Linked DNA regions of Homo sapiens: regions 1 and 3 are each linked to region 2. Evidence: fine-mapped expression QTL. A gene starts in region 2. Each other region holds a variant in brackets. All regions are shown on one strand. Distances are from middle to middle.

What was found.
Region 1: its variant is fine-mapped to the expression of SETD7 in whole blood (INTERVAL, PIP above 0.99).
Region 3: its variant is fine-mapped to the expression of SETD7 in skeletal muscle (GTEx, PIP 0.99).

The regions. Positions count from the first base shown.
Region 1 is chr4:139,516,688-139,527,541 of GRCh38, forward strand. SETD7 (SET domain containing 7, histone lysine methyltransferase) reads right to left here. Exons shown (of 8, transcript NM_030648.4): 5 at 6,667-6,748; 6 at 3,590-3,707; 7 at 1,198-1,355. Among named protein-coding and RNA genes, the nearest start is that of SETD7, 34 kb to the right of the region's middle. The variant C/CT (reference allele first, on the strand shown) is at 6,054.
Region 2 is chr4:139,551,756-139,562,609 of GRCh38, forward strand. It overlaps SETD7 (SET domain containing 7, histone lysine methyltransferase), which reads right to left and starts at 4,464. Exons shown (of 8, transcript NM_030648.4): 1 at 4,343-4,464. The coding sequence starts at 4,382. RefSeq lists silencers at 3,772-3,961, 4,092-4,261, 4,322-4,381, 4,602-4,711 and an enhancer at 5,452-5,621.
Region 3 is chr4:139,504,149-139,515,002 of GRCh38, forward strand. SETD7 (SET domain containing 7, histone lysine methyltransferase) reads right to left here. Exons shown (of 8, transcript NM_030648.4): 8 at 1,890-7,695. The coding sequence ends at 7,515. Among named protein-coding and RNA genes, the nearest start is that of SETD7, 47 kb to the right of the region's middle. The variant A/C (reference allele first, on the strand shown) is at 5,323.

The DNA of each region.
Region 1 (10,854 bases), 35 kb before region 2:
TGTTAATATATAATTTATATACAGAGTATAAATATATGTACTCCTTTATATATATTTACCTTTTGAAGTAGATAATTCAGTGGCCTTTCAACCACTGAATATCACAAATACATACAAAATTCGGCAACCATCACCATCATCTAATTTTAGAACACCCGCCTTAGAACATTTTAATCAGTCCAAAATGAGACCGCAGTGAGATCCCATACCCATTAGCACACACTCCTTATCACCCCTCCCCAGCCCTAGGGAACCACTAATCTACTTTCTATCTCTGTGGATTTCCTACATTTTGGACATTTCATATAAATGGAATCATACATCTTTCACTTAGCATAGTGTCTACAATTCTCATCCATGTTGTAGAATATGTCAGTACTTCATTCCTTTTTAGTATCAAATAATAGGGACTCTGATTTTATAGGTCTTTTCCAACGCTGAGATGTCATGCCCTAGGCTTAGGACTTTATTTTCCTTCTTTCTTTCACATCATAAAAGGGCTCCCGGCTGGGCGAGGTGGCTCACGCCTGTAATCCCAACACTTTGGGAGGCCGAGGCTGGTGGATCACCTGAGGTCAGAAGTTCGAGATTAGCCTGACTGACATGGTGAAAACCCATCTCTACTAAAAATACAAAATTTAGCTGGGTGCGGTGGCGCATGCCTGTAATCCCAGCTACTTGAGAGGCTGAGGCAGGAGAATCGCTTGAACCTGGGAGGCAGAGGTTGCGGTGAGCTGAGATCTCGCCATTGCACTCCAGCCTGGGCATCAAGAAGGAAAATCCATCTCAAAAAAAAAAAAAAAAAAAAAAAAAAAGGGCTCCTTCATCTTCTCCACTGTGCAGAGTAATTTAAATTTTTACTATTATTTCAAATAACACTATCTTTAATTGTCCAAAACGAGAAAACTGAAGGACAAGAAAAGCGGCTATAAAACAGCAACCCCTCGGTGTGGTATACTATTTCCATACCATTTCTCCTCTTCAAAGCACTTTCCATTTCTTAGATTGCCAAAGCCACAGAGTGAGGCTGTTTAGATTTTGAGTTTCAAGTCATAACCCTGAGGCCGATAGCAGAGGACCCATGGTCATTCAGATGAAGCAGCCTTTATCTGAGGCAGAATAACACTTTTTACTGCCCTCCTCCGTCTCAGGGCCCTGAGGCATAGATCCGCCCCAGCAGCTCTGGGTAATACTTACATATCGTAGATGCAGTTTGGAGTGAAGGAGTGATTTGCCTTGTGTCCCAAGGAGGCACAGTACTTGGATACGTGGTTATAGGGCTCAGGCACATCAATGACCGTTTCTTCATCAAGGGAGAGGGTGTTCCCATTAAGGGCCCAGTCCCTGCTGTCAACCTGCAGAAAACAAGAAAGCGAGCCTTAGAGAGGACCTTTCTCCCCAAAGGTCAAAGGACATCAGAGATATTAACTCATTTATCTTATTATTATTTTTGTTTTTGAGACAGGGTCTCACTCTGTCACCTAGGCTGGAGCGCAAGTAGCGTGATCTTGGCTCACCACAACCTCTGCCTCCCAGGTTCAAGCGACTCTTGTGCCTCAGCCTCCTGAGCAGCTGGAATTACAGGTGTGCACCACCATGCCTGGCTAGTTTTTGTATATTTTGTAGAGACGGGGTTTCACCATGTTGGCCAGGCTGGTCTCGAACTCCTGACCTCAGATGATCTGCCCACCTTGGCCTCCCAAAGTGTTGGGATTACAGGTGTAAGCCACCACACTCAGCCAAAACTTCAAGGTTTGAGCACTACAAAATGAAATAAAACAAAACAAAACAAGGCATGTCTCCACACACTGAGAGTGCAAATGACATGTGTGGTCAGTGCCAGGCAGCTCGACTTAACTATTTATTCATTTTTCCTTGTTCTATATGAAAAAAAAGGATTTAAAGTCCCTGATGAAAACACACACAAATATAACTGGATAGCTTGTATTAAAAGTAGATAAAGAAGAGGAGGCAAAAGAAAAAAAAACAAAGTAAGAACACAAATGGAACCAGAAATGTAAGGGATGCAAGAATGTACTCTAGGCAAGTCCTCCACCTTTGTTACAGGTGGGAAATCACTGTGACCAGGAGGCAGCCATCGATTACCAGCATGCCTTCTTATCTACAACAGGGGTTACTAACAGTGTAACAATCAGGCTTCTCTTCTCCAAACCACTCCTGATGAACTCACCCCAGGAGCTGGTGATGACAGCAGCCCAGCCTTTTGAAGCCAACAGGATGACATTTTCATACAAAACTGTTGACTCTCAAGGTATACCATTTCCCCCACTATTAAATTGTAATTGTGCTTTTATTCATATGTGATAGTCCCTCAACTGATGTTTACTAAGCGGTACCATGTGCCGGGCACTCTTCTAGGTGCAGGGGATACAGCAGTGATCAAAAGTGGAAAAAAGCCTCATGGACCTTAATATTCAAAACCAGTCATGTGATACTGATATGTGGCACTTGGTACCATCTACCTTAGGCTGCCATTAGTTGTGTATTTTTCTTATCTCCCCAACAGAATCTAAATTTCATTAGGGCAAGAAGGGTGTCACATTCATTTATACAATAGAGCATATTGAGGTTCAGCACAAAGCCAGATTCTGCAGTTTGAAATCCTACTTGAACTCTGCTATTTGCTGTATTTTTGACTTTAAGCAAGTTGTGTAATCTCTCTAGGCTTCCGTTTCCCTATCTGTAAAATGAGTAAGTAAATCATATATCAATATCCCAAAGTCACCCTTTGTATGCTGAATTTCTCTGGATTGCTGACAGAAGTCTGGCCTTTGCATGGGACGTAGTCTGACAGACCATAGTGCAGTTTGAATACGTCGCCCTCTTTTGCCTGTGCAACTGCTTTGAAAGTGTAATAACTTTATTATTATTTCACAGCATTTTCCCTCTTACTGTTCCACCGGAATAAATGCAAAGGTGAACATAAATGTGGAATATTAGCCATAAGCTTAAGGTCCCATACACGTAATATAAGTCAGACAAGGAAGGAGCGCATAAGCTGTGCTAAAAACATTGAACTTTTGCCCTTAGGCAGACACTTAGGGAAATTAACTGTAAAGTGAAGAAACAAAAACAGAAAACATATATGAAGCCTTTGACATATATCAAAGATTGTATCTTAAAGGTAAGAGGTGATTCAACTCTTTAACATTTTGTTTTTAATTTTTTTGACAAAAGAACTCTTCCTGACAAAATGTAGGATATAGTATAGCATGGCTTTTGCACAAGAAGATGTAAGGGGCCTTCCTATAAAGCACCCCACCCAAGGTCATGAGTTAGTTATTTACAGAGTCTGACTGGATCTCAATTTTTAAGACATTGGTACAGTCTAATATACCAATTACTGTCTTATTGATGGCATTACCCCACTCTCTATAAAATAGCTCTGGAACTTTTAAAAAAAATCGTATTAAGGCTTAAAATAAAGAGGATGAAAATGTCCAATCATTTTTACAAAAAAGCCAATCTGCTTCTTTAACTTTCTAGTGAGTACTAAGGTAAAGGGATTTTGTTTGAAGCAAAGCCCTTTAACCAACAAAGTTGATTTTCCACTGTCAGCCCCACTCACCTCTTGGTGTGTAATTCGAACTCCATTATAAAAAGACATAACAGTATTAGGTCCCACAGCTACCTTTGAAAAAAGTCCTTCTCCAGCACTGGAAATAAGAGATTCAGCAACATAAACCCTAAATTGAAAAAAGAGTTGAATAGTGACCTTTTCAGCTTAATATGTCATTCCTTACATCAACTGCCAAAATATCATTAAGGCTACTGATTCCAAAATGTCAATTCATAACCCAACTAAGAAGGGAGGGAGGAAGAAAAAGTTAAACCACAATATTTTGGCATTGGAAATTAAACAAACGGTAGTTATGTCTCTTTTAGGAGTGGTGTTTAAAATTTGCTTTCTAATATAGAAATTATCATTATATTTTCATAAAGATGCTCAGTGCTTGATATGAGGTATTTTTTGGAAGAATTTTATGTTTTTAGTTGATGACAATTTTCACTGCCTTACTGGACAAGTAAACATTTTTTCAAAGTTAATTAAAGCTATATCTAAGTTTGTCAGTGTTAGATGGGAGGGAAAGGAGGCTGTTTTAGTTAAGCCTCAAGATGTATCTTCTATATGCAACAGTGACAAACAATTAATAAGATATATCCAATAAGCATTTCCCAGCAAAAGGGTTCATAACAGGGGTCAGTTAACTATGGCCTGAGGGTCCAGTCTGGCTGCTGCTCATTTTTGTAAGTAAAGTTTTATTGGGACACAGCCATACCCATTTGCTTAGTATTGCCTATGACTGCTTTAGCTCTACAAAGGCAGAATTGAGTAGTTGCAACAGATATTATATGGCTTGCAAAGCCTAAAATATTTACTATGTGGCCCTTTACAGAAAAAGTTTGCCAACCACTGGTTTATAAGAAAACAGCTGGTCGGGCGTGGTAGCTGATGCCTGTAATGCCAGCACTTTGGGAGGCTGAGGCGGGTGGATTACCTGAGGTCAGGAGTTCAAGAGCACCCTGGCCAACATGGTGAAACCCCGTCTCTACTAAAAATACAAAAAATAGCTGGGTGTGGTGGCGGGTGCCTGTAATCCCAGTTACTCGGGAGGCTGAGGCAGGAGAATCACTTGAACCCAGGCGGTGGAGATTGCAGTGAGCTGAAATTGCACCATTGCACTCCAGTCTGGACGACAAGAGCAAGACTCTGTCTTAAAAAAAAAAAAGAAAAAAGCGCTCATAATTACGGAACTGGATTTAACCAGACGCTGGGATGGAATGACCCTACAGGAACTGATCATCTGTAATTTTAGTTACATGGCTCTTATGCTTATTCATGAACTGGAAGACTGATTTATTGCTTTCAACTCTTTATTTCTTCGCTGTGATAGAATTATATACATCCTGCCACTTTGCCACGTGACCTTGTAGTGCCTCCCTCAGGGTGGGTGGAGGATACATCCTGCCCTACTGACTTCTCGTTTGGCCATCTGATCTGCTTTGCTGGTAGAACATGGGCAGAAGTGGCTGCAGGCAAGTCTCAGGTGTGAAGGGCTGGGGCAAATTTCTGCTGGCCTCCTCCAGACTTTTCACTGTCTCCATTAGAAGAATATGCCCTAGGGGGCTGTTGCTCCCTGTTTCTCTTGTAAAGAAAACATGTGAAACAGACTTGAACCCAACTTGAAACCTGGAGTCCAGCCTAGGCCAGCTGAGCTTAGCTGATTCCAGTCAGAAGTGGCTGAACCTCAGCCAACCTATAGAACTATGGTGTAAAACAAAATGTTTGATTCTGTAAACCACTGAAAGTTCTGAGGGCATCATTATGCAGCCTCATCACAACAATAATAACAGAAAAGACTAACACGTATGGCTATGGTCTTGTGTTTCGGAGCTAACAAAGAAGCTAAACCCTTCCCTTTGTAACTGGGCCAGAGCCTCATGTCAAAAAAGAGTCCATTCATCATTGTGACATTGTGGGGTCAGCCCTGTCAGTTGAATGGAGGAAGAGGCCTATTTCTCAGATGGGAACAGAAACTGAATGGGAGGTAAGCCATGCTTACAAAACACGAGGCAAAGAGAAAACCAATTTCAGATAGTACGCTTATTCATAAACAGATCTGTTGCTAAGGAATAAGAAGAATCCCAGAGAGGGTACCAGAAAAAGCCACATCAAGACTCAAGAGCTAGAGTTTAGCCATCCTCATAAATAAGACATGAAGTAGAACAGGATGTGACCCTCTGGGAGTGGGCTTACAAACCAGAAACTTGTCATTTATAAGCTAGAATGTTTTTATGCCTCTTATACTTTCTTTGTTTCACTCTTGTCTTCTGTTTGTGAAAAAAGAAATTGTCTTGTGTTCCAGAACACCTCCGCTGGTCTAAGATGAAATGGAGGCATCCTGTGTGCACAGGCTAGAGCTTTAAAGAGCATGAAATGTTCCCCTAGAGGGCCAGCATGTGACTGCAGCACAGACCCTAAGAACGGGAATGCTCGGCCAGGACACAGCTGGCTGCCTGGCCCAGCTGCT[C/CT]TTTTTTTTTTTTTTTTTTTTTTTTTCTTTTTAGATGGAGTCTTGCTCTGTTGCTCAGGCTGGAGTGCAGTGGCATGATCTCGGCTCACTGTAACCTCTGCCTCCCAGGTTGAAGCAATTCTTGTGCCTCAGCCTCCCGAGTAGCTGGGATTACAGGTATACGCCATGACACCCAGCTAATTTTTGTATTTTTAGTAGAGATGGGGTTTCACCATGTTGGCCAGGCTGGTCTTGAACTCCTGACCTCAAGTGATCCGCCCGCCTTGGCCTCCCAAAATGCTGGGACTGCAGGCATGAGCCACCATGCCTGGCCTCAACTGCTCTTTCTACCTGGAGGTTTTACTCTAGGACAGACACACAAGCTGTTCTGTGATTTATGGGTGAGGAAACTCTCTTACAGGGTCAGATTCTACATAAGAATAAAAACACTCTTCCTCAGAATATAGAAATATTTATTTGAGGGTTGGCAAAGGAAAAGGACACTTTCATGAGGAGCTTGGTCTGAGCTGGAACCCAGCCTGGGCAGAGAGCCAAAGAGGTGCATAAGTTCCTACCACTAGGCTTATTTAACCTCACATAAACAGTGCAATTAAAACCCCAAGGAGGAAATTACCTTTCTGATTCATAAGGATCTGGAAGAAGAGCATTGGTAGAAATGCAAGATGAAGTCGACTTATCAAAGTGGTACACTGAATCTGAAAAGCAAACAAAAATACCAGTATAGGTGCAGAGTTAGGGAAGAGCATTTATAACACTTCTCTCTATTCATGGGACAACGAAGAGTTAAAAAACCAAAAATCTTAATCAAGTTATACCAACTAGAATGAAGTTCTTCAATTTAAATGGATACATTTTAGATTTACGCTTCAGTTTTATTTTCAGGCCTTCATGAACAGCCATCAGATGCATCTCTTAACATTCCAATTCACTCTTGAATTTTCCTTATTAAAATGACTTAAAGGATGCTTGGGAATCAATAAAATGCTTTGTCATGAAATTCTGAGATCTCTTGGCTCAGATCAAATTGGATGATGGTTTTAAATTTTTCTGGTGGTTTTCTTCATTACAGATACAGTCTACAGAATCCAACAACTGAACACTGGCAGTTGTCTCCTTCACTAAGAATAAAATTCTGCCTCACCAGAATTAAGGAGAACAGCACTGCTTTTGATAAAGCATTAACAAAGTAATCTCCTTTCTATTACGGTAGTTCAGAAGCCAATTAGTAATTTACTCTAGAAATCAAGGCACACAACCACCCTAGAAGGAACACTGGCTCTCTGTGAAGGATTAGCTTTAGAGAATCCTCACAGACAGCACTAAAGATAGATGCTCTGAAGACTGATAGGTAAAGAAACAAGATTTAGAATCAGAGGGCTTACTCCTGCAAAACAAATGATTATATACACTGAGGGAAAACTCATAATCCCATTAAGCAATTCTTCAGTAGTTACTAATGGTTACTAGGTCCTCTTTCTGTTTGTTTGTGAGTGGCTTTTTTTGTACAACCAAAACCCCAATGAATACCTGAAACTAAAAGTCAGAAACCAATCCAAATCAGTCAGTGTCCGCACAGAAACGGACCATTTGAGTGTTTCAAAAAGAATTCAGTTCAGGGAATTGGTCATACAGGGGATGGAATGCTGACAAGCCAGATGGAGCCGTGAAGAGCCCAGACACTGGCAAGAGCAGGAAGCTGCCACTGGAGGCCGGAGGGACAGAGGGCACAGTGCTGCTCCTGGAGCTCTGGAGCTGGGGTAGTTGGAACTAGCCTGGGCCTTCCTCATGGGAGATGGAATCAGGAGGTGATGGGGCCACTGCTGGAGATGCTGGTTGACACAGAGAGGGCTTCTTCCTGCTGCCTTCTCCTGCTTTGTCCCCAGCCAGCCAGTGGCCTCCCTTTGGCCAAACTCAGACAGAAGTCAGACACACAGGAGCCTGAAAAATGCAGGCTGCAAGGGGCAGCAGCCTCTTGCAATAATAGCGGGCAGTGAAAGAATGATGAATGGATTGGATCTGAGAGCAAAGTGGTAACAGACCACCAAGCAATCCACGAAAAGCATTTAAACCACCCTCCCCCACTTTTTTTTTCTTTTGAGACAGTCTTGCTCTGTCACTCAGGCTGGAGAGCAATGGCGTGATCTCAGCTCACTGCAACCTCTGCCTCCCGGGTTCAAGCGATTCTCCTGCCTCAGCCTCCCAAGCAGCTGGGATTACAGGTGCCTGTCACCATGCCTGGCTAATTTTTGTATTTTCAGTAGAGATGGGGTTTCGCCCTGTTGGCCAGGCTGGTCTTGAACTCCTGACCTCTAGTGATCCACCTGGCTCAGCCTCCCAAAGTGCGGGTATTACAGGCGTGAGCTGCTGTGCCCAGCCGTCACTTTTTATAAATAACCAAAATTGTGTGTGGAATGTATGTTCTATTGAGTGGAAATTTTCCTATGAATTCCATCTAGCTCCTTAGACTAAAATTTTTATGACAAATTTACTGAGTGCCAGCTACATGTACAACACTAGGGACTGTGTAGATACAATAAGGATTAACTTCTGTTGCTGCTTTCAGGGAGTGCACACTATCTCTTCCAATGCCTACTGTCTCTTCTTCTGCTGCCTTAGACATGCCCAGGCTGCAGGCACATCCTTTACTTTTACAGATTTTACACATCCTTTACTTTCCCTCCTTTCCTCTATAGTATGCTATGCCCTTTGACTAGAATTCATTTATTCAATGGACAAACATTCATTATAAAAAGTGAGTTAAGCCTTAAAGATGGAGTAGGAATTAGCCAAGGAAAGCAGTTACTATGTGGAGTAGGGCTGATCAGGTGAGAAGCAGTGGCATAGGTGAGAAACTCCACAGGAAGTAAGTAGAGAATTAGAAGTAGTTTGTGGTTACAAAAGCACACAGAGAAATGGAGAAGCTGGTGAGGCGACAGGTCAAGGAGTGTTTTATGTGAGATATTTGCATTAATTTCTCTCCTTCCCCAACCATTGGACGCTACAGTCACAGGACCCTGTACCCCCTAACCCACTGGCCAGTCAGCAGGTCAATAATTATAACTGGAAGGGGCAGAGGAGAGATACAAACATGGCAGAACATTAGACTAAAGATCGGTCTATAGGATCTTCAGAGTGCCAGAGCAGCCATGGTTCCTGGCCCTTTTGAGGCTCAAACTATTCAACATTTCAAAACACCTGAGGTCTGCAGGAATCTTGCCAATAAATCCCCCCTTTCTTTTCTGCGTTAAGTTAATTTGAAGTGAATGTTTATTTGCAACCAGAAGGTTTTTGTTGTTGTTGTTTGTTTTTGTTTGTTTGTTTGTTTGTTTTGAGACAGAGTCTCTGTGTCACCCAGGCTGGAATGCAGTGGTGCTATCTTGGCTCACTGCAACCTCCACTTCCCAGGTTCAAGCGGTTCTTGTGCCTCAGCCTCCTGAGTAGCTGGGACTGTAGGCACACTCTACCACACCCAGCTAAAGCAACCAGAAATTCTAAAAAAATAATAATTCCCTTTAGAATTCTCACTCTCAACAATTTTTTTTTTTTTTTTAAAGACAGGGTCTCACTCCTGTCGCCCAGACTGGAGTGCAGTGCACTCAGCTCACTGCAGCCCTGACTTCCTGAGCTCACGTGATCCTCCCACCTCAGTCTCCCAAGTAGCTGAGATTACAGACACATGCCACTATGCCCAGCTAATTTTTTTTTTTTTTTTTTGTATTTTTTAGGAGAGACAGGATCTTACCATGCTGCCTAGGCTGATCTTGAACTTCTGGGCTCAAGTGATCCACCTGGCTTAGCCTCCCAAAGTGCTAGGATTACAGCTGTGAGCCACCAGCCCTGGCCTACTGTTTCTTATTTATAGCAAGAAGAATGTAATAACAACTTTCATTACAGTGTTTTATGGTAGGTGCTAATATCCACATTTGGTAATGAGGAAACAGGTTCTGAAAAAATAAATAACTTGCCCAAGGATAATATAGTAAATGTTAGAGCTAGGTCTCAAATTAGGTGATTCTTAAGTTTAGGCACCTGCCACTAAAAATGCTGCTACTTCTGAAGTTTTAAAACTGGCATCACCAATTGGGATCCTCCCTTGTTTCGAGCCTCCTCATTTCTAAATATTATAACACTGTCTCCTTTCAGAACATAGATCAAGGGCATAGATATCACAGTTTGTAGTTCAAAGATTACTGCTTCCTTTTTTTAAAAAAATAAACTTTTCATTTTGGAGTAATTTCAAATATACGACATGCATCACTTAATGAAGGGGATACATTTTGAGAAATGTGTCATGAGGTGAGTTGGTCATTATGCAAACATCAGAGAGTGTACTCACACAAACCTAGATGGTATAGCCAACTACACACCTAGGCTATTAATAAATGGTACAGCCTATTGCCCCTAGGCTCCAAACCTGTACAGCTTGTTACTATAGGGAATACCATAGACAACAGTAACCTAATGGGAAGGATTTGTGTATCTAAACATATCTATACACAGAAAAGATGCAGTAAAAATATGATATAATCTTAGCTGGGTGCAGTAGTTTATGTCTGTAATCCCAGCACTATGAGAGTCCGAGGCAGGAAGATTGCTTGAGGCCAGGAGTTTGAGACCAGCCTGAGCAATACAGCAAGACCCTGTTTCTACAAAAAAATTTAAAAATATTTAGCTGGGCATTGTGGTGCATGCCTGTAGTCTTAGCTACTGGGGAGGCTGAGGCAGGAGGATTGCTTGAGCTCAGGAGCTCAAGGCTGCAGTGGGCTATGATAACACCAGTCCACTCCAGTCTGGGCAACAG
Region 2 (10,854 bases):
CATGCCTGTAATCCCAGCACTTTGGGAAGCCAAGGTGGATCTCTTGAGCCCAGGAGACCAGTCTGGGCAATACAGTGAGACCCCATCTCATTAAATAAATAAATAAATTGAAAAACAAAAAACAACAATAATAAAAGGCAAGCTTATTCTGTTTAATGCAAAGAACATGCCCTCCTGGTGATGCATTCAATCACCAACTCTTAAAAACATAACTTGATGTTTTGATCTTTTTAAAATTTTTTAATTTTTTAGGTTTTTAAAAAATTATTTCAACTTTTATTTTAGATCCGGGGGTACATATGAAAGTTTGTTACCTGGATAATTTTTTTTAAGGGTAATTGTTGGCAAGGGTTCATCTATTAATTGTGAGGGTCATGATTTTAATGTGTGGCCCACACAGAAAGGGTGCTACAAATACACTTCATATGCATTTTCCCTAGATACAGGGCATGAGCACTCTTAGCAGAGACAAGTAGAATCTGATATTAGGGGGAGTGTTAATAAAAAATATTCTTAATATTTTGAAGGGGTTGTGGCAGTGGAACACTGAGCTGCTTATTTTCATTCTGGCCCCTTGTTCTGATATTTCCCCTTTTTGATCATTCTTCCTCCATGTCTCCTACACATTTCCAGGCCCTTCTGTTTTTCCTGCCATCATAACTGTGCATCTGGACCACTGCAAAGAGACTTCAAGGTACCTCATCTGCTGTGTCAGCCCCTCTGACTGTCCTGCTGGCCACTGCCTGTTCCTCTTCCCGGAGTGGAGCCTTGATCCTGTCATTCCCTTTTCTAAAGAGCCCCCACGGCTTCCATGGCTTCCAGCACACAGTCCATGCTCTCAGCCTGCTACCCAGCCTCCTTTCCCTGTCTTCCCCTCCACTTTTCTCCTTGTAAGCTCCATGTTGCAGCAAAATCAAATGACTGTTCTCTGGGTGCACCCGCAGAATTCCATGCCTCCGTGTCTTCACTCACAAAGTTCCCCTCTCAACCTGACTCAGCTCTATGGCACCTCTTCTGGAAAATCTTTCCCCTTTGACTTCCCTAAGCTGGAACTAATTTTTACTTCCTCTCAACCATCACAATTCATCTGTATAGATATATTTATTTGAAATCATATTAGAGACCACATCATATTCATCTTTGTATCTATGGGTAGACAAAGAAATAGATGCTGTGATAAATTTCTGTTTCCAGATGCCCAGGGGAATAACACTGGAAAACTAAACATCACTCTTCACTGAACCAGTGTGTCTCAAAGTGTTTTCCAAAAGCCACACCAGAGCTCAGGTGGAGCTCTGAGGTCCTCTGAGGCCCAGGGCTTGCTGCCTTCTTCCCACAAGAGCACAGCCAACACAGTACACAGAACACTCTCTCGACACAGCCTCCGCCACTCCCCTCACCTCAGGGAATTGTCCACTCTGAGTTCAGAACTTTCCCAGAGTTACAATCATACCCTGACAGAGAACCAAATGCACATGATATATAAGACATTTAAACTCAATCCTGAAGAGACTAATTTCTTCCCCAGAGTAAATCTCTAATGAAGAAGAAAAAAGATAGCTATTGCAGAGGACACAGGTTCTTTCTCCCCAAATACATTTTTCTGAAAGTCACTGAACTCTGTCAGAACCAACCTCTACAGAGTTACACTGATAAAAAATGGCACTGACATAATATTTAACTGTTGCTTCCAAACTCAGTTATCAAGTGTTTCATAAATTTGACTAACTCATTAAAAATAAAAAATGTAGGAAGACAGTTTGGTCTGGTGGAGGGCTGTTTTGGAAGTCCAAGCCAGTCTCTCCACCTCACTGAGTGTTCTTGGATTAGTCCTTAACTTCTGTATGCCTCAGTTCCCGCCTCTGTAAAATTAGGATAATATTAGTACCCACCTCATAAGACTGAATAAGACTGAATGGATAATGTCTGTGAAACACTTAGCACAGAGCCTGCACTTAATAAGAACTAAACAATTATAGCAATGATAATAATAGCTATGACAATGAAACTACTGAGAACAGAGGCTCTGTTTATGGAAAGAGGTAGATTAGTTGGTACTTAAACACTAAGATATTCAGACTAGCTTCTCTTTGGGAAAGAACAGAAGCAGTTTATACCAGTCCCCTATGTAAGTGTTAGATGTTATGTAAAGACTATTGCAAACAGCACTAAAAAGGCCAAGAATGGCTGGACAAGAGTGCACGCACAGGTACGGTTTACTGCATGTGCACACACACACTCCTGGCACTGTGCAAGTTAGAGCCTGAGATGCTTCTAGGGGCTTTTAAAGATTCTGTGCTGCTCTAATTGTTTAGTTAGCTACAACTGAGTGACCATGTGTCCCAGATTGCCCCAGACATTCAAGGCTTAAGCTACCTGCCCCAGCATCATTATTAATAGTGTGCCCTCTCATTCTCAAGGGGGTTCTGATTTTGGACAATAATGTACATAATTACCCTATAAAACAAAACCATCCCTGTTTATATGAACTTCCCTGTTTTCGAATCCAGTGGATGTTCTCAAAAAACAATACTGCCATTTCTAAAGCTCTTGGTCACAGTCTGCAAAGGAGCCTGAGGACTATGGACAACTGGACATATGTTTGTAAACAGCTTCAAAGGGGAATGGATGTGGTTTAACATGGAGAACAGTACCAGCAATTAAGGGTTTGTATTTAATTTTTACAAGTAAAAGTAAACGTTGAAGAAAGAGAGCAAGCCCTAACAATCTGAGATCATTTTTCCTTTATCTTTCACAACATGGAGGCACAAGAAGTCAACAACTTTTAACTTCTCAGAAGGCTCCCTGTGGATCAACTCAATCAATGTATCTGGGCCTCACTCCAGTAAGCCCCAACATTGGCTTTATTTATTAGAGAGATAAATAGCTCTGTGAGTTCACAACATGGTGAAAATTTTCTTAACAAAAACCACAGTCTTTAATTGGCTTCGAAGTTAGATGAAGAAATAAGTTTTAATATTGGCATTACATTGGATACTTTTCAAGAGTTCAGAAATATTAGTCTGCTTAATCTCCCCTTAAGATCTCAGAAGCACTGCAAAGGGAGTTATGTTTATGAAAACATTAAAACTGATTTTTCCCTAGTGTAACAATAACCATGTATCCTTATGCATTTGTAGTGTCGCCACTTTTTTTCTTTATCCTTCGTCAGAACTTGTGTTTATACAAATCAGACAGAAACCAGATTCAACCAACAGCTAAAAATTATTTACTCACATGCTTAGTTTAAAACATTCTGGTATCATACCACACCACACTGAAAAACATCACGACGTACTGTATGGAGTGGAACCAAATAAATACGCTAAAGAGTATTTTCCAGTATTCGCTGTTACAAAATCATAACATCCTATGATACAAACAACGAGATTGTATAACGTCCCCACATCGTTTTTTCAGAACTAACAAAAAAAAAAAAAAAAAGGTGGAGAAACTCAGCAAAACAAAGTGGCGAGAAAAGTCGGGGGAGGGGCGGTAGAAGAGAAGGGGCGGAGAAACACGACACTGAGGCGGTGATATCACCCACAGCCAACGGCATGGAATTCAGAAAGTTAAGTGTCACCCAGCAATCTCGGTGCGGACTCGCGGCGCGCCTGCACAGCGTGGCGGCTGCATCCCAGCCAAGCAGGAAGGGGGAGGGGGAGGCCTGACTGAGTTCGCTCGGGGGCAGCTGAGGGGAGGGCTGCCCGCCTCCCGGACGGCGCACGTTCGAGTCCCGGGTCGGGAGACTTGTCCGTCGCCCGACAATGATTTCATCTTTTCGGAAGAGCTGCCGCCTGGGCCGCGGCTGCCACGTGCCTGGTCTGGCCCCGTGCGCTGCGCCGGGGGACCTACCCGGACGGGGCCGCGGCCGCCGCGGGGCGCAGAGGCAGCAGAAGGGAAGGGCTGGCGGCCGGGAGGGGATCGGGGTGGCCAAAACTGGGCTAGGGGATTGCTCCGCGGAGTCCGCCGGCCTCAAGGGGCTGCCCTGCGGAGTGCACCCACCCTCCGCGCCCAAAGGCGGAAAGGCCAGAGCGCGGGGCAGGTTTCGCAACTCCGAGGGTGGATGCAGGCTGTGGCCGGGCGGGATGGAGCGGCCGTGCGTTTCCAGCGCCCCCGGCCTGGCGGAGCCCCATTCTCGGCCTGCGCCCCGCCGCGCAGTGCGCGCTCCCGGCGGCGTGACCGTGGCTGTCGGGCCCCCGCCCGAGCCGGGCAACCGGCCACCCGTGTAGGGGACAGTGGCGGCCGCGGGGCCCGGCGCCGCGCTGTTCGCAGCCCGCCACTCCTTCCGCGCTCCAGGCCCTCTGCGCCTCCTCCCCCGGCCCCGGAGAAATGCTTGTACCTTCCACCGCCTCCTCCACCATCTCGTCGTCGCTATCCATGGCGGCTGGGGACACTGCCCAGCTCGGGGCTGCGCGGCTGCCTCCCGTCCCTCTGGGTGCTCCCGGCGGCTGAGCGAGCTCTGGGGCTCGCGAGTTTGGAGGAGGAGGAGGAAGAGGAGGAGCAGTCGGGGCTGGCTCGCACTGCCTCCCCCTACAGCCCTTTCAATTCCTTGGCCTTCAGCTGCTGCGGCAGCAGCCGTCGTCCCCCCTCCCTTCGCCCACTTGCCCCTCGCCTCGGAGGCTCCGGTGTGCCGCCTTGGCCGCTGCCGCTGCTGCAACTTTCTCCTGTAATACCCTCTCTTTGTTATCGAGCAGCTGATCCGCTGACATCACCCAGCGCCGGTGCGCTCCCTCCCTCGCTGATTGACAGTTCCCTGTCCCTTTCCAGAAGTAAGGCTCCTTAAAACGAAAGGCGCTCCGGGGCCGCGCGTATTCCGCGTCCCAGCCAACCCGCCTCCGGCCCGTCAGCGTTTCTCTTTTGCTTAGGTGCGGCTTGGCGCGCCCCGAGCGCTCAACGCGGTCCTGGGCGCTGCGGGCTTCTCGCGGACACTTGGACCGCCCGTAGGGGCTCCGAGCTCCCGACCTCCCGTTGTGCCGGGAGCAACTTGAAAGTCCGTCGTGCACTGTCCGTGTTCCCTCGAGACAACCTCCAAAGTGCCAGGGAAGCTAAGGAAGCGTTTCTGACGCTCTGGCGCCTGGACTTCCTCTCACCCTCGCCCCCACATCACCCCGTCGCCACCGGGAGCTGCACGAGTGCGACACGCAAGGGAGCGCAGGTGTCCTCGCGGTCCCGCATCACATCCGCAAGCCGATTTCCCCAGCTCGGGGGCTGTTATCTGGCCCGGATTCCGCAGGATGGCGGGTCCACCCCAGCGCCCCCACTCCCCGCCCTCCTTCGGGTCGCCAGGCCCTCGGGTGATTCAGAAATTCATCAAATCCAAATGGCAGCGGGCTCTCTGTCAGGCAGGAAACAAGCCGCACCGAAGGCTCGGCAGGTTCCTCCTTGCTGCTGTGGTAATGGAAAAGGAGCCGCCGAGTGGAGCTAACGAGGAAGGAAGGACCCTCCGTCTGGCGCGCCTCTTTCCCGCGCCTCCCGCCCTGTACGTGTGATGTCCCCAGCTGTCTCTCTGTTTCTCCAAGTGCCAACCACTTCACAGATTCAGGCGTCCTCAAGTGGAGAAAACCATTGGGCACCCGGCTTCCGGCCCGGCCACTTAGTGTCGTTATGGCGCTGCCTCTTACAGGTGGCGGTAAAGGGCGACTGTAAATAGCCGATTAAACAGATGTAAATGTACACAATGTACCGTGGAATTACCGGGTGCCGCTCTGGGCACCCGCCAAGAACAGCTACTGCATGGAGGGGAGGAGGGAGCAAAAAAAAAGTAATTCCATTTTGTTTTCTGATCAATGAATGAGACTTTGGGGATTTCAAAATACTTCCAGCGCCCAGGAGACTACTCCTTGCTTTTGGCTCTGTGCTTAAATGGTAGATATTTTTGTCAAGTATTGCCGGCTTGTTTCTTAAAGTCAGCTTTTCCTCTATGAAAAAGAGAACAATGCTAGGGACATTAGCCCCACACACTTCCAGGAATTTCAGCCCCTTTGACTGTTTTAGAAAGGGGAGGGTCCTGGACCAGAAGTTAGGAGACTTGAGTCCTGGTGCTGCTCACCTGCAGAGGTGTCTTGGGAGCCCAGCCAGCCAGCCTGAATTCCTCCAGATTAGAGGCTTAGTCTACATTGACATAAGGTCCTTGGGGCTTAGGCTAGAGCACTCTGAGGTTCTTTGGCTCAAGCAAGACACCCTCTAGCTTAGTCTATACCTCTCTGAAGTCTCTTGGCTTAGGTTTGACCTCCTTAAAGTCCTCCAGTGCAGATACTGGGAGTCCAAGGCTAAACAGAGAAGGTGTACGTGCAGTGGAAGATGAAAGAGCCACTTTAGGTTACATCATTTTCAAACATGAACCACAGAAACAGGATTTTATATCTGATTTTTAAAAAGCCATCATTTACTGAGCTCGGTCACTCACTGGTTTTGAATTATATGATATTTTTTCTCATTTAACCTTTTTACATATCACCCCCTCCCTTGCATATTATACTGGTGCACTAAAACATACCAGATACTCGTCTTCCCCAGTTTCCAGTTGATTTTCAGGGTGAAAAACAATGCTGAAAGCTGAAGGAAGCAGCAAAAAGACTTTATTCTCTTACTCAAAGGCAGTGAGGCAGGGCTGGGAGGCTGGAAGAAATCTCTCAAGACGTACAGAAGACACAGTTTCATGGTGGGTGGGTACGTGTGGGAGTGAAGGAGAGGGGAGGAATCATGTTGCAAGTGTCCAACTGTCCCCTTGGTGCTGTGAGGTTTTCCCAGCCTGTACTAAGCACCCAAACTGTCAAGCGCTCCCTTTCTACCTACTACCTTGAGAACACCTGAAACCCTGCCTACGGCACCCCCCAACCCCGGCCCCCGCCGTCGGTGAAGCAGGGGTCCTCTGGACCTACAAGAGGCAGGGACAGGAAGGGAGCAGGGTCTTTCTAGCAAAGTCAGTAGTGATGCGGGGTCAAACTACAGAGAACCTTCACCAGATCTGCACATGAGGCAGGCAGCAGCAGGGACACAGTCCCATCCCTCTTCCCCCACCATTCATTCCTGCTGGCTCTGGGCCCAAAGCTGGGGCAAAATGTTTTTATGACTCTCTTAAGATCCACTTGTATCTTTACAAATCATGTTGTGTATGTTTCGAGTCTCCTTCTCTAGACGGACTGATTCTTATTTATGGTCCTAGAACACAACACAGTGCCTGGTACAGAATGTGGGTTAAGCATTGTCAGCAATGATTTTGCAGATAGGAATATTCTGTTTTATATAAACAGTGCTGAGGCTTTCTCACAGACTGGATTCTCCTCCTATGTTTTGGCAAAGTGCTTTGTTTCAGTTCAAATCTGAAGAGCATTTTTGAGTTGTTCTACTTTCCCACATCGACTGGCCCCAAATCTGCTTCCATCGCATTCTTTCCCACAGTTTTCTTCATTGAGAGCTGATTTCATAAACTCTCTTTCTACTTGGCTTTCCACCAGTTTCCCCTGTCGTACTCTGTCCCCACCAATGTGGTCATGGGCTAGAAAATCAATAAAACTCTTAATCACAAACAATGTGCAGCAGCAACAGCAGCAGCAGAAGTAGTGTGGCTCAGCTCCTAACTTGGCAGATCCCAGTGAGACAGAACAAGCTCTACCAGGGAGGAACGGGACCGCACAGGACATCCAACATCTAGGCTGGGTGAGACTTGCTTTCATGTTCACACTGAGAGTGACTTTTTTTTCCCTGTCTTTGGTCTTGAATCAGGAGGAGGGGTGACTTTTCTAAGCTGCTCTGGCTTAGTTTCCATTGCCTCCAAGGCTATATTCCTTCTCTTCATACCCAGCTTGGGAAACATAATTCCCTCTTCCATTGCAGCAAGCAGTCAAAATACTGAGTTAATTTTATTCATTCTACCACCCCTGTCTTTCCCTGGAGAAGGCTGGTGCTTACATACAAGACTGATATAACTTTTGCAATAAATATATTTTTACAAGCTTCTTGTATTTTATGCACCTTCCTACATTTAGGGGAAACAATTCTGTCAATTCGCTGCTATGCATGCTAAGCGAATTGTGAAACAAGTAGTGAATGTGGAACTTATGTGGGATTCACTACTGTTGGCTGTTACTGACTCCTCATCCTGCCCGCTGGCAGGGAGTGGAGGGGCCCAAGCAGTCTTCTGGGTCTCCATGTATTTGGGAGGGAGGAGCCTCTGAGACCTCAGCGGTAGGAAGTCGCATCAGAGCCTCTCCAGAAGCCCTGGTGGCTTTATGGTTGCTGGCCTGGCTCTGGTTTCCATCACTTGCTTACACCGCCAGCAGGATGACAAGGATAAAATTAGTGAAAGACCTTTTAAATAATCATCAAGTCTCGTTTTGGCACTGCTCACTCCTTCACAAGATTTTTTCCCACCAAATTAGCCAGTTTGATTGAGTTTTTGCTTTGTCTGTTTTGGTTCCACCAAGAACTAGCCAAGCAACTGGGCAATTCAGTTCTGCGGGGGCCGGGGGGGGGGCCTTCGTTTTCCCATCTGTAAATGAAGAGTTGGGCTACATAAATTCGAAGCTCAAACCTTCTCTGTCCACCTTTTCTGGAGAAAAGGTAAATAGAGCCTGAGAAGCCCCAGGAAAAGGCACATAAAAAGGAAATGGGAAGAAGCCAGGGCAACTCCAACAAACTGAATACTCAAGTCCTCTCACGTTAATGGCTCTATCTGGGCAGGCAGGTGAGGGGAGAACCTTTATCTTGACTCTAGGGAGGGAAGCATGGAAGTTTTAGGAGAACCAAGGTTCCTGGGTTCTGAATCACTGAGTCACTAATCAAGTGGCTAACTGTGTTAGTGACAACTGCAGAAGCTGGAGGGAGGGGCTGGGAGAGGAGCAGCGAGGAGGAGACGGGTGGGGGAGGAGATGGGGATGAAAGGGAAGCGTTTGCAGCTTGTGGAGCACTGGGAAGAGCAGGGACATCAAGGGCACCAAATAAAGGTCCAGGGAGCAAAGAAAGAAATGGAGAAAATTCATTCTGCTGGAAATAGACATGAGTGCAGTCAGGAAGAAGACTTACAGATTCAGGGTGACCTGATTTGATTACAGCAACAGGAAGTGCAAGAGAGAGAGGGCAGAATAACCTGACCTAAGGAAGTGAATTAAATAATAGAGAAGACACCACAGTTGCCATGGTATTAAAATACCTCATGCCACATTAAGCTTCCTCTTTCTCTTTTGCTTGATTCTTGTTTTTGCAACATGTTAATGTTGCAATGACATGTTAATGTCATTGCAGGGTATCCAGTAAACTAAATTTAGACTTTCTGGGGCGGGGAGGGGAGGGAAGATGCAGCCCAGATCTCCCTGTTTGGGTCGACTCTGGGCCAATATTGTTCCTTCACAGAGTTCTTGGGGTTTTTTGCATTATGGGATATGAAAACTCTTATGTCAGGCTTGGGCCTAGTGAAGCTGCTGAGTGAAATGATTGAAAAAAAAAAAATGAGGCCAGGCACGGTGGGTCACGCCTGTAATTCCAGCGCTTTGGGAGACAGAGGCAGGTGGATCACCTGAGGTCAGGAGTTCATGACCAGCCTGGCCAACATGGTGAAACCCTGTCTCTACTAAAAATACAAAAATTACAAAAATACAAAAACTGGTGGTGCATGCCTGTAGTCCCAGCTACTTGGGAGGCTGAGGAAGGAGAATCACTTGAACCTGGGAGGCGGAGGCTGCAATGAGCCGAGATGGCATCACTGCACTGCACTCCAGCCTGGGCCACGGAGTGAGACTCCATCTCAAAAAAACAAACAACAACAAAAAAAACCCTCACACACACACACACACACACAAAGAAAAATTGGAAATAGTTTTCAAAGGGGCATCTGTTTTAGAAATTACTTTAGAAAAACAATAGGATTGCAGAAACTTGAAAAATAAAGACAAACCGCCACCAAAACCAAATGTGTTTTCATAGATATTATTTTCTCTAATTGTTTTTGAAAAATTACTTTACTAGGCTAAAATTAAGATTATTGAGTCCTGCAATTGGTCCTCTGCAAAAGTAGACATTGCAGAGGGCAGGTACATGGTATACTCTTTTGACACTACAATATCCAGGATGGGCAGAGGAGTATTTCCAGCTGACCTATTTACCACAAATGTCATAACATTCATCAAGGGTCAGCTCTTGACCTTCCTCAAGTGGACTCACATTAACTAGACCCCGAGAGACTGAGATGTATGCCTGAATTATGATGGACAGATCAGAATACTCACACTGTCAGGGCAAAAGATCTCTCTATATAAATAAATGCACTTGAGAAGACAAATTCCATCCAAAAGTTTGCTTAGTTATCTGGAGTAGAATGAAGGACATTAGTTGTGTGGTCCACAAGACAAATACTCTGATACAGTGTTCTGAAAGAATGAGGCTGCCCACCCATCCCACTCACCTCTGCTTAGATGGGCCCTATGGCTTCTGAGGCTTCAAGCTTCTTTCTCCGTGCTCTAGTTTCTCCAAACCTGATTCTCCACACAGCGTCCTATACAGCCCATTAGGCAGATTTACACTTTCTAAGTCATAATGACATTCTCTATCTTCCTGGCATTACAGCCAAGTCACTTTAATGGGAATTTGAGGTAATCCTCAAACTTCTCAGTCACAAATTGAGTCACTCTCTTGGTTTATGCCCACTGAATTCTAGTCAAAACCATTGAGTGTGCAGATTTTGGTAGTCAAACTTTCTGAGAGCAACCTGGTTCTCAAGTTCTTGGGAAAGCACCTCATTTCTGCTTCACAAGCCATCAACAGTGGGCCAACCTTCTTAGGCTACCATGATTTCTGAGAAAGAGACCAGAGACATATTAAGACCCACGTGGCCTGTCCTGTGATACAGTCATCCAA
Region 3 (10,854 bases), 48 kb before region 2:
GAGTTGAGCTTTGATGTTTCTTGAAGCTGGAAGCATTCTGATACTTACAGAAGTAAAAATTTGGTAGCAATCTAGATGGATCCATTAATCTTTTTCCGTGTACATTATAAGAAGTGAAGCTCTAAATTCAAAACCCTGGCTTTTGGTTTTTGTAAATAAACAAAACTTAAGGAAAAACACATTTATCGAGCAAACCACTATGTCGTGAGGGAATTACCATGATCTATCTGTCTATCTGTCTATCTATCTATCTATCTGCAAGGTAACAGTCATTTTCTGAAATACTTTTGGAGCAGAAACCCCTTTTCTGTTTTTCCTTTTTTTTTCAGCTTCAAGAGGAGGAATGGAATTTCTTCTTCTTCCTCTTATTTTTCAACTAGAGGCTTCTTATTGAACAATCCCAAATCAGTCAGATGCTGAATTGAAACTAAATGAAACTACAGCATAAAGTCCTTCGATAGCTGTTACCTAGTTCTAGAGATGACTGCTGAAACAATTTCACATTTAATATAAACTAGCAGTCTGAATGATTCCAAACATTTAAACCCAAAGGCAGATATTGGTAACCATCCCATTAGTATAGCTGGGATGGTTACTAATTTGGTCTAACATAATTTTGTCTTAATTTTCACATTACCTCATTCTACAACATTTGGGCCCAAATCAATCATCTTAACCCATGAAAGTTGCCCAATCTTTCACTTTCAAGGTTAGCTTCTTAAGCTTCCCTCAGTCTGTATTAAATTTTTAATCCTGTATTCCCCTTTCCCACAAGGAAGAAGAATATTAATATTGTGATTTGACCCATGCGTGTTAGAGGGTGAAGCCTTGCCTGAAAGATCTAGCATGTGAATGTGTCTGTGCAGGTGGAAAAGCTGATCCAACATCAGTTTGGACCCAGTCATCTCACTCGTTTCTGTTTCCTTCCTTCCATGGAAGGAAGTGTGATAAAATCAAGGATTGGGCAACTGAGGGAGGTAAAATAAAGCAGGAGATCTCATGGCCTGCTTCAGTTTGAGGCCTAACTGTGCCTCGTGTAGCCCTGCCAAACTTCCTAGAATTCACTTCTTTGGGGTCCTGGGCAGAAGGCCCAGCTAATAATGAGGTACTATGTTGACTCCTTTTGTCACTGGCTTTTGTGCTTTACAAATGTTGACTGGCTGGGCACGGTGACTCATGCCTGTAATCCCAGCACTTTGGGAGGCCAAGGCAGGCAGATCACTTGAGGTCAGGAGTTCAAGACCAGCCTCGCCAACATGGTGAAACCCCGTCTTTACTAAAAATACAAAAATGAGCTGAGTGTGGTGGTAAGCGCCTGTAATCCCAGCTACTTGGGAGGCTGAGGCAGGAGAGTCGCTTGAATCCCGGAGGTGGAGGCTGCAGTGAGCCAAGATTGCACCACTGCACTCCAGCCTGGGTGACAGAGTGAGACTTCATCTCAGATTAAAAAAAAAACGGAAATGTTGACTGTGATTAGGGCAGGAATAAGGGATTGCCAGGGTTCTCAGCTCAGACTCATCCTCAGACTGCCAAAATCTACCACAACGTCTAACAAAATTTCTATATTTTCTTTAAATCATGAATTGAAGTTTCCTTTCAGCTATTTGCCCTGATCATCTCATTTGCATTCCATACCCTTACCATGTATGTATTCAATCCGACACTTTCTGTTGGTGTGGCTAATCCTTCTGGATTTATGGGTGTATGTGGAATCATATCAAATCCTCCGCTCTTACTAGAATGCTCTGAAAATGATAAATGGCTAATAATATTTTAAAACAACTTAAAATGTAAAGTTCACTTAGTAATTTAAATATACAGGTAGACACATTATAAGAAAACCATTATTGCTTTTCTAACCTAGATGACCAAAGGAAGACAATGACAGATGATTGTATATTTTGTTTAATACTTGCATTGTTTCTATAGCGCAATTATAGCAATCTTTAAATTTACTTTCATTACAAATATTTGTCAAGTTTTGTTTCAGAAACATTTTTCCTACTCTCTTGCATCATGCACCCAGACACACTACAAAAAACTCATTCATAACACAGTAAGGGCAAACATTATTCATGTAAACATCTTTCATTAATTTCCCATAATTTAAAAAAATCATAGAATTATAGATATTGAATAAGGCTCATAGTTTTAGTTCAAATTCCACAAGAGACCAAAGATGCTCGTTAACCGTGATGGGGTTAACTTTTGGTTGCAATAAATGCTGAAAGCATACCCCTGGCTTCTACTTCTTCAACATACCTCACAACCTAATAAATGTATTTCAGGATAAAGAGAGAACATAGAACACCCAGGAGGAAACTTTTGAAGAAGGGAGCTCAGAATCATGGACATAATTTTCCTATGTGATAAGCAGGTATTACGTAGTCCCTGTAGCTTCCCAATACATGAATCAAGGTTAATTATCATAAACCAAAATGTAACCAAGTAGATATGTTGATACATTGGCATGTGTGTTCGTATTGCTACTATACACAGTGAAAATTTATCCTAATATGTATCATTTCATTATATCCAGGACCAAAGTGGAAAAAAAACCCCACTCAAGTTGAATATCATCATAAAGGAGTTTTTGTTTGTTTGTTTTTTCAATAACATAAGAGTCAGGAGAGTTGGGAGGTATGTCCTAGGGATGTGATTGACTCTTGACATTTAACAACTTTGAACAACTGTGTGTAAAGTCACAGACAGAGGAAGCAAGGATTTTTGTTATCGGAGGACGTCTCTCTCTCTGGTTGGAAGTTTGGTGCTTGGGTGCATAGTCTTCCAGAGCTGAGACAGGAAATGTACTGTGCTGAGAAATGGGCCCCTTGCCAGATGCTCCCCTCTCCTTCCTCTCTGCGAGGCAGAAGTCAGAAGGTAGAGATTGCTGGCAAAACTGTGAAGTCCCACCCTGGGGTCTCAACCCCAACTCCACTGAGGGCAGCCTCCCTGACGTGTGTGACTAGGCAGTAAGGGTGGCGGTTGATGGCGGCCGGGAAACCGAGTTTCGAGGTTCACATGGCCAAGTCTGGCTTCTGATTCTGCTGCCCTGCAAAGAAATTGTGCTCCAGATAACTGCACCGGTGTCTCTAATGCCTCTGATTCACTCTCAGGCCCCTCAAAGGCCTGCAGTGATATCACTAAAAGGTGAACACACCTCCATTAGCACCTAACTTCCACCAGGAAGCGGCTGAGGCACTGGGGAAGCCTACGAGCTCTCTCCACGTCAGGTGCAACAACGCCGAGGAAGTTGCTGAGAGTCAGAGTTATTGTAGGCTTTTGATTTTTAAAAATCAAAATTGATCTGCATTACATCTCAATAGACTCAGATAATTCTCACCAAAATTTTTGTAATGTGTTTAAGTAGCACTGGAATAATTCAACTTCATTTAAATATATTCATTCTATCATGAAAATATTTCATACAAACATCTATTTACATACAAACACATTAAAATTTGTGAAAAGGGTTCCCACCCCTGTGGTTGTATGGCTTGAAATAGTTTCATTGCTTTGAATATGTACGCACACATTTGGCAAAAGAAAACTATTACAATTTAGTATTTTTAAAATTAAAAAAAGTGACAACGAGTTTCCAAATTCCTGAAGGGAAAGATAAAAGAAAAACAATAATAATCTATCAAGGTACCCCAAGTAGATGTAAATTTGATATACTTTGTGAACCTTTGATCTGTGGCAAATAAACATTACAACTGTCAGTCTTGCAACATAGTTTTGCTTGTTTTTCTAAAACAAAAGATATCTGGATTCTAAGTCACTACTCTTAAGACAGAAGCTTGAGGCAACTGTTTTAAAACAAAGCAAAACAGAAAATGATACCTCTACCTTCTTGGAAGATTTTAAATGCATGTTGCAGTGAGTGATTTAAATTTTTATATATTAAATGAAATTTACGAAAAGTGCCACATACTGTCTCCTGGAGAAGACAACCCTTTAATTCACTGTTCACAATTAATGCAATTTTAATAGTTATATTTAAATGTTAAAAATTGTTACATTTGGCCTCATTGGCCTTTCTGGGTGGGTCGTTGGTGATAAGGAAATAGTTTTTCGAGTGTGAAGAACCCCCATAGGGCAAATAGGTTTAACTACAGTCCTAGACAGGTTCAAAGAGCTCTTGGAAAACTAATTTCCTTCTTAGTGTCTCAGGTAGATCAAGGATGAAGCAAGTTAAAATAAGAATAGGTACTACAAGACTCAAGAACTCCTCACTGCTTTCTTTTTGATCCCATCATTCCTTTGTGTCGGAAATTCAGTCTTTCCAGTTGTTTTTGTTAGTCCATTCAAATGTCCATTTGGGGACATGCTCCTACAGGTTAGTTCCTATTCCTAACTCTAACACAAGATAATATTTCATCACAGAAAAGATGCTAAGGGAAGATCTGGTCATGCAGGAGTTGGACTGAGACAGCTCTGAGTGAATCTCCTTGAGATTACAGTGTCGCACACACACATAGGCTCCCGCTGTTTTTCAGGAGAGCATAAAGTTATTTCTTTATTCCCCACCACATGGAATCTTCCACGTCTGCTGTGATTCTGATGCGATGAAATGACCAGATGCAGCGGCTTCCTGACACATTTCCTTCCCCAGCAGATGTAAAGTAGAAAAATACATTCTGAGTATTCTTTTCCACTTGCGTTTAGGTTCAAACGGGAAACAAACCCTTCCGTCCTCAGCTGTTAATTCCTTATAGAACCTCCACTCCCTTGACTTCTTTCCCTACCTACAGAACTCAGTGAATCTCAAGCCTTACTCCGATTCCAACCTGCCACAGAGCCTTACATTTGGGAGTATGTGTGTGTGTGAGGGGAGGGGTGGGGAAGACAGAGCCAGAGACATAAGCAAACAGAGAGGCACACACAGAGGAAAAGCCAGATGAGCAGAGTCCCAAAGACATGCACAGAGCCAGAGAGACTCAAGAAAGGTCAGTGCAGGGGACTTGGAACAGGGAACAGGAGAGGGCAGCTGGGGCTGCTGTTACCCAGGATGCCCAGGCGTTCTCACATATGCAGAGAGAAGAGGAAAGAGAGCCGGCCAGAGAAAGAAGAGCTGGAAGACACAGAGAGTATGAAGAGAGTTGGGAGGAAGACATGGTGAGGCTCAGCGTGGATGCATTGCTTCCTCTGATTTGCGTGGAGGTCACAGACACACTGCTGAGTTTTAAGCTCAGAGTGTTACCATTCAATATCTCATCTGAAGAACTGATTAGCAGACTAATCACTACTTACAACTCTTCAATTCCTTCTATCCAATGTTGAAAAAAATTCCATTTGAATGGGATAATTAGAGTAGCCCCC[A/C]CTTAGGACGTAAATTGTACCCCACTGCAGCCAGGACCAGAATGCTATCACTCTCAGGAATGAAATCATTCAGAGCATAGCTGCATCGGGGGCATGACCAGCACTATCCTCTCCCTGACCGTATTCCCTGACCTGGCTGCACAACCCACTTGATCGAGGTTAATGCAAGCCATCTTTCTCCTGAAGACAGTCACTCCCTTTGGGCACATTTAAATTAAAGCACCTATCAGAATGCAAGTCCAGAGGCCCTGGCCCATCCGTCACAGTGTATAGAACGGTCTCTTTCTACAGAGTAAGAGTGACCCTATCCTGGTGCCTTTAAATCTAAAAACTATTCAGTTCCTTTGGTGGGCAATCTTCCTGGAAGCACTGACAACTTCCTCTCATGGGTGAACCATTGGCTTAAGCTTTCAAGCAGGGATCCAACTGGATCTCCCTGAAACCACTGCCACCTAGCTGCAAAGCATGCAACCGGGTGCTCTAGGAAGCCTGGTGTTGCAAAGAAGGGAAGGGCAACTCTGTCAATGTGCCCAAGGGCCACCTGAAATGAAAGTCATGAGCAGCCTGGGATTAAGCACTTTTGTTGTAGTCTTCATAAAGCAATGTGCAACTGACAAGAAATAGCAAACTTCCTTCTGCCTATGTCCTCACTCTTCTTCCACTGAAGCCTTCTCTCATCAGCTGGAGCTCACTATCTGCTACAGCTTGGAAGGCCTTCGCTTTCCAGACCAAACTGACTCAGGTGACAGGAATCACAGCTGACAGCTACAGATCAGCACAACAGCTGCTCTCCAGTCCTTCCAGCCGCTGCATCGAGGTGTCTAAAAGAGACAAAGCTATGGCATGTGGTGAGGGTGCTTATAAAAAACAAAACTCTCAGGATTCATTCAGAGCAATCCCAGTGATGTTACAGATCTAATTAGCTAAACTAAAAAAACAGGGGTTTTCTCCTTATTTCTGCAGTTGTGATTACACATGGCTGGCAAAATGGCTGAAATGCTATTGATAGTGTTGCTTTTAAACTATACAGGTGTTCAGTCTTAGTTTACAATGTTTTGAAGCAGGTAAGTGCTTTGAAATTACAATGATGAAGAGTTTTAGCATCAAGGTTTGATTTGTACCTAGTAATCAGTGTGTCTGCCTTAGTAGTACTGACTAAAAAAATTTTTTTTTGAATTCTGTTAGAATTCAAATTTGCTGTTTGACTTTTGAATTCAATGCACTGTGCCACAAGCCTGACCGCGCTATGTTATGTACATTTAATGTGTACTCAAGGAGGAAAAAATTACTAGCACTACTGAAAATATTGCAAAATTGCCATAGTTACCGCTTAGAGATACTAGTTTTCTTCTCTTCTTTCTTAAAGTATATATTACAACTCTTCCATAACTTAATGCAAACAAAGTAAATTCATTTCTTCTCACATCTTAAAGCAAAGATATCTTTGTTTACATGCGAGAATAATATTCTATAATAATACCCTGGCCCTATGAGCCAGTACTTTATATTAGGACATAATAATAAAATGATGATATAGAAAGAACCAGAGAGACCTACACACTGCTATTGATGCAAAAATCCATTTGGAAGTTTTCTCTTGTAAAGGGTATCTAAGAAAGAGAATAGGGCTGAGGGGTGAAATGACTTTAGAAGTGGGCTCCTATTTACTAAGAAAAAAACCAAAGCCATTCTATTGCAAGATACAGATCAAAGGTTAAAAGGCAAATTATACTACATTTAGAGAATAAAGATGTAGTAATTGTCAACCCTTAATACGGCACATATGCAAGTGTGCTAACACAATTTGCACTGGCCATAGGAAAAAAGCACTATGGAAAAACCACTGACTAAAAATGACTGAAAAACCCCGTTTCCCTGTTTCAGTCTAATCATTTGGCATCTCCGAATGTGGTACAGATTTAGACTTGAACCACCAAAGAACATCACGCTGTCTTATGTCAAATGCTCGACAATACCTCTCAGTAGGACGTTGTTGCAAGGCTAGCTAATTTTAAATCTGGTATGAGTAATACAGTCAAACCTAGTTAGTATGCGAGAAAGTCGTTGCTAACGCATGGTGAGAGGATGTGACGTCACAGCATGAGCAGTCCCTGGTTGTCCCATTGTCAGATAAACGTAGTGCATAGATCCAAGTTTCTATTCCAGGTCTCTGAACCCCAAAGCCAGGCCTTTCACTTTTGCTGGGTGGCCTGGAAGGCCTTCAGCTCCACCTGGTACCACTCAGGGGCTTCAGGCCCACTCTTCCCGGGGGGGCTGTGGTCATAGCCATAGGCAACGGTGAGCTCTTCATCGGCCTCCACTGCTCTCAGGGTGCGGATGCATTTGATGGGCCCAAAACGGGGGTGGACAAACCTAAACATCAAGATGCACACAGTCATTCCCGGGCCAGACCAGGAGGTTGGAAGCAAAGGCTAGGGAGGGGCTGATACAGGAATCACCCCCAGGCACTCTTCCCTGGGCACACCTGGTATGTGCCCAAAGTGTGGTCACCCAGCATCAGTTTCACCCGAGAGCTTATTAGACATGGAGCATCTCGGCCCCATCCCAGACCTGCTGGATTGCAATCTGCATTTTAGCGACACCCCCAGGCGATCCACTGGTGTATTAAAGTTTGAAAAGCACTGCTCTGTTTTTTAAAGCATATTTGGCACCTTGCATTTATAAACCAACAATCATGATCAACAACAAAAATCTGTCGTTAATGAGAAATCAGATCCAGTGCAGCCCGCCAGCATTTGAGCTTGTCTGGCCAGCAGCATCAGATTACGTGGCTGTATCTCAGGGAGAAGGCTTCACCAGAGTGCTTTTGGAGTTGTAAGAAAGAGCCCTGTGGATTTTCAAAGGCAAAAACTCTGTATTCCACCCTATACATAGAGAGGAAATATTATTTTCTAGCATGAAAGTAGATGAAGATTTCTTCCCAAGAGGGAAGTCTAGACCTCTCTGCCAACCTGTTTATTTAGTATTTCCCTGTGAAGCATCCTATGAAGAGAGCAGTATCTCCTTCCTACAACAAGTCCTCTTGGGACCAGAAACGAGGTTAACACTATGGCTATGTTCATTTGCCGAAGGCTCCCAATCCTGTTCATCTGCACAGCTCCCTGCAGAACAGGCAGATAAATAAGCAATAAATAGACTTAGCTCACCTAACAGCTGCTGAAATGGATACATGTAAGGCATGGCCAGAAGAAATCAGCTTTATTTTTATATGCATCTGGTCAAATCAATCTCATTCATTTAGAGTCTTTTTTTTTCTTATTCTTTTTTTTTTTTTTTTTTTTTTTGAGACAGAGTCTTGCTCTGTTGCCCAGGCTGAAGTGCAGTGGCATGATCTTGGCTCACTGCAACTTCCACCTTCCAGGTTCCAGCAATTCTCATGTCTCAGCCTCCCAAGCAGCTGGGATTACAGGTGTGTGCTACCATGGCCAGAAGATTTTTTGTATTTTTAGTACAGACAGGGTTTTGCTATGTTGGCCAGCCTGGTCTTGAACTCCTGGCCTCAAGTGATTGGCCCACCTTGGCCTTCTAAAGTGCTGGGATTACAGGTGTGAGCCACTGTGCCCAGTTTATAGTCATATTTTGCACAAAGGGTTGGTGAGACAGCAAAGGAGAAGGTTCCAGGCCCTAAGTTAGATTGGTGCTTGGCGGCTGGACATGGTGGCTCACCTCTGTAATCCCAGCACTTTGGGAGGCTGAGGGGGGTGGATCACTTGAGGTCAGGAGTTGGAGACCAGCCTGGCCAATGTGGTGAAACCCCATCTCTACTAAAAATGCAAAAATTAGCTGGGTGTGGTGGCGCACACCTGTAATCCCAGCTACTTGGGAGGCTGAAGCACGAGAATCGCTTGGACCCAAGAGGTGGAGATTGCAGTGAGCTGAGATTGCTCCACTGCACTCCAGCCTGGATGACAGAGTGAGACTTTGTCTCAAAAAAAAAAAAAAAGAAAAAAAAGATTGGTGCTTGGGGCATGATAGTAAGTACTTGGCTGGTTCCTTCTATCAGTGGTGGAGGAATGGGCATGTCTATAGCTTTGGGACTTCTTTTATGTGGAGTAAAAAGGAACAACCTTTACCTCACACCAAAGGGGCCTCTATGTCCACCCTCTTGGGTATCATATCATGTTTTGTGGAAAGGACACTTGGTGTCAGAAGACTTTGGTGTGAGTCCTGATTCAACACATTTTTACTGCATCCTCTTGGAAAGTTCACCTTATATCTCTGAATCTCACTTTCCTCATCTGTAAAATCATGATAATACTAGTAATAGTTATCCCATAGGGTCTTTGTCATGACAAAATGGGGTCACATATAGAAAGCACCTTATACAGTGCCTGGCACAAAGTAGGATTCAACTAATATTGGTTACTGCCTGCCTGTGAGCATGCATGTGTGAACACAAAAGTGAACAGTTATCAGCCTGTACTCCACCACAAAGAGATGCGTGGACTGTGGATTCAGGAATTCCTTATGAAAATCACAACTCTTTGCTTAAATTAAAATATTTCACTTGGCTGGGTGCAGTGGCCCATGCCTGTATTCCCACCACTTTGGGAGGCTGAGGCGGATAGATCACCTGAGCTCGGGAGTTCAAGACTAGCCTGGGCAACATGGTGAAACCCCACCTCTACCAAAAATACAAAAAATTAGCCAGGGGTGGTGGTGTGCACCTGTTGGTACCAGCTACTTGGGAGGCTAAGGTGGGAGGATCGCTCGAGACTGGGAGGCAGAGGTTGCAGTGAGCTGACATTATGCCACTGCACTCCAGTTTGGATGACAGAGAACCCATCTCAGAAAAAAAAAATTAAAGTAAATTAACATATTTCACTAAAAAAAATGTTCCTGAAATACAGGTTGGTTAACCTCTGGTACACTGAAAAAAAACCAAAAAACAGACCCTGTGTTGAATTTCCAGGCCTAGAGCTTCTCTTATAATCCTCTTTTATTTACATTTTCCTGTTCATTATCATCATCATTTTCAGAGTGTAGATAAGGGACAGACTGAAAAGAAAGAATTCAATTTCAGGTGTTGATTGTTGAAGATGACCCAAAGGCACAGTGGTTAAGAGCCTTAACTGCTCTGCCTTGGAGACCTGCTTTTCCTGTCTGTGATCTCAATGGTGATAGCAGTGGCCTCACTGAGTTACTGGGAGGACTGAATGAGACAATGCATGAAGAGCATCTAGCACAGCACCAGCCCGTAGTGAGTGGTCTATAAACGTGAGCTACACGATTAGCAGTCAAACCAAACCTCTGTGCCAAGTGGCTTAGCCTCTTGTCTACAGGTTGTCTAGGAAAGCAGCTCTTATCTATTTGTCCATTTGGCATTTTGTACTAGATTGCGTTTCAAACAGCTTATGGAAGTGTTTTGTTTATGTTAAAGTGTACATATCAGGGCCAGGCATGGTGGCCCACACCTGTAATCCCAGCACTTCAGGAGGCCGAGGCAGGTGGATCACATGAGGTAAGGAGTTTGAGGCCACCCTTACCAACATGGCATAAACCCGTCTCTAC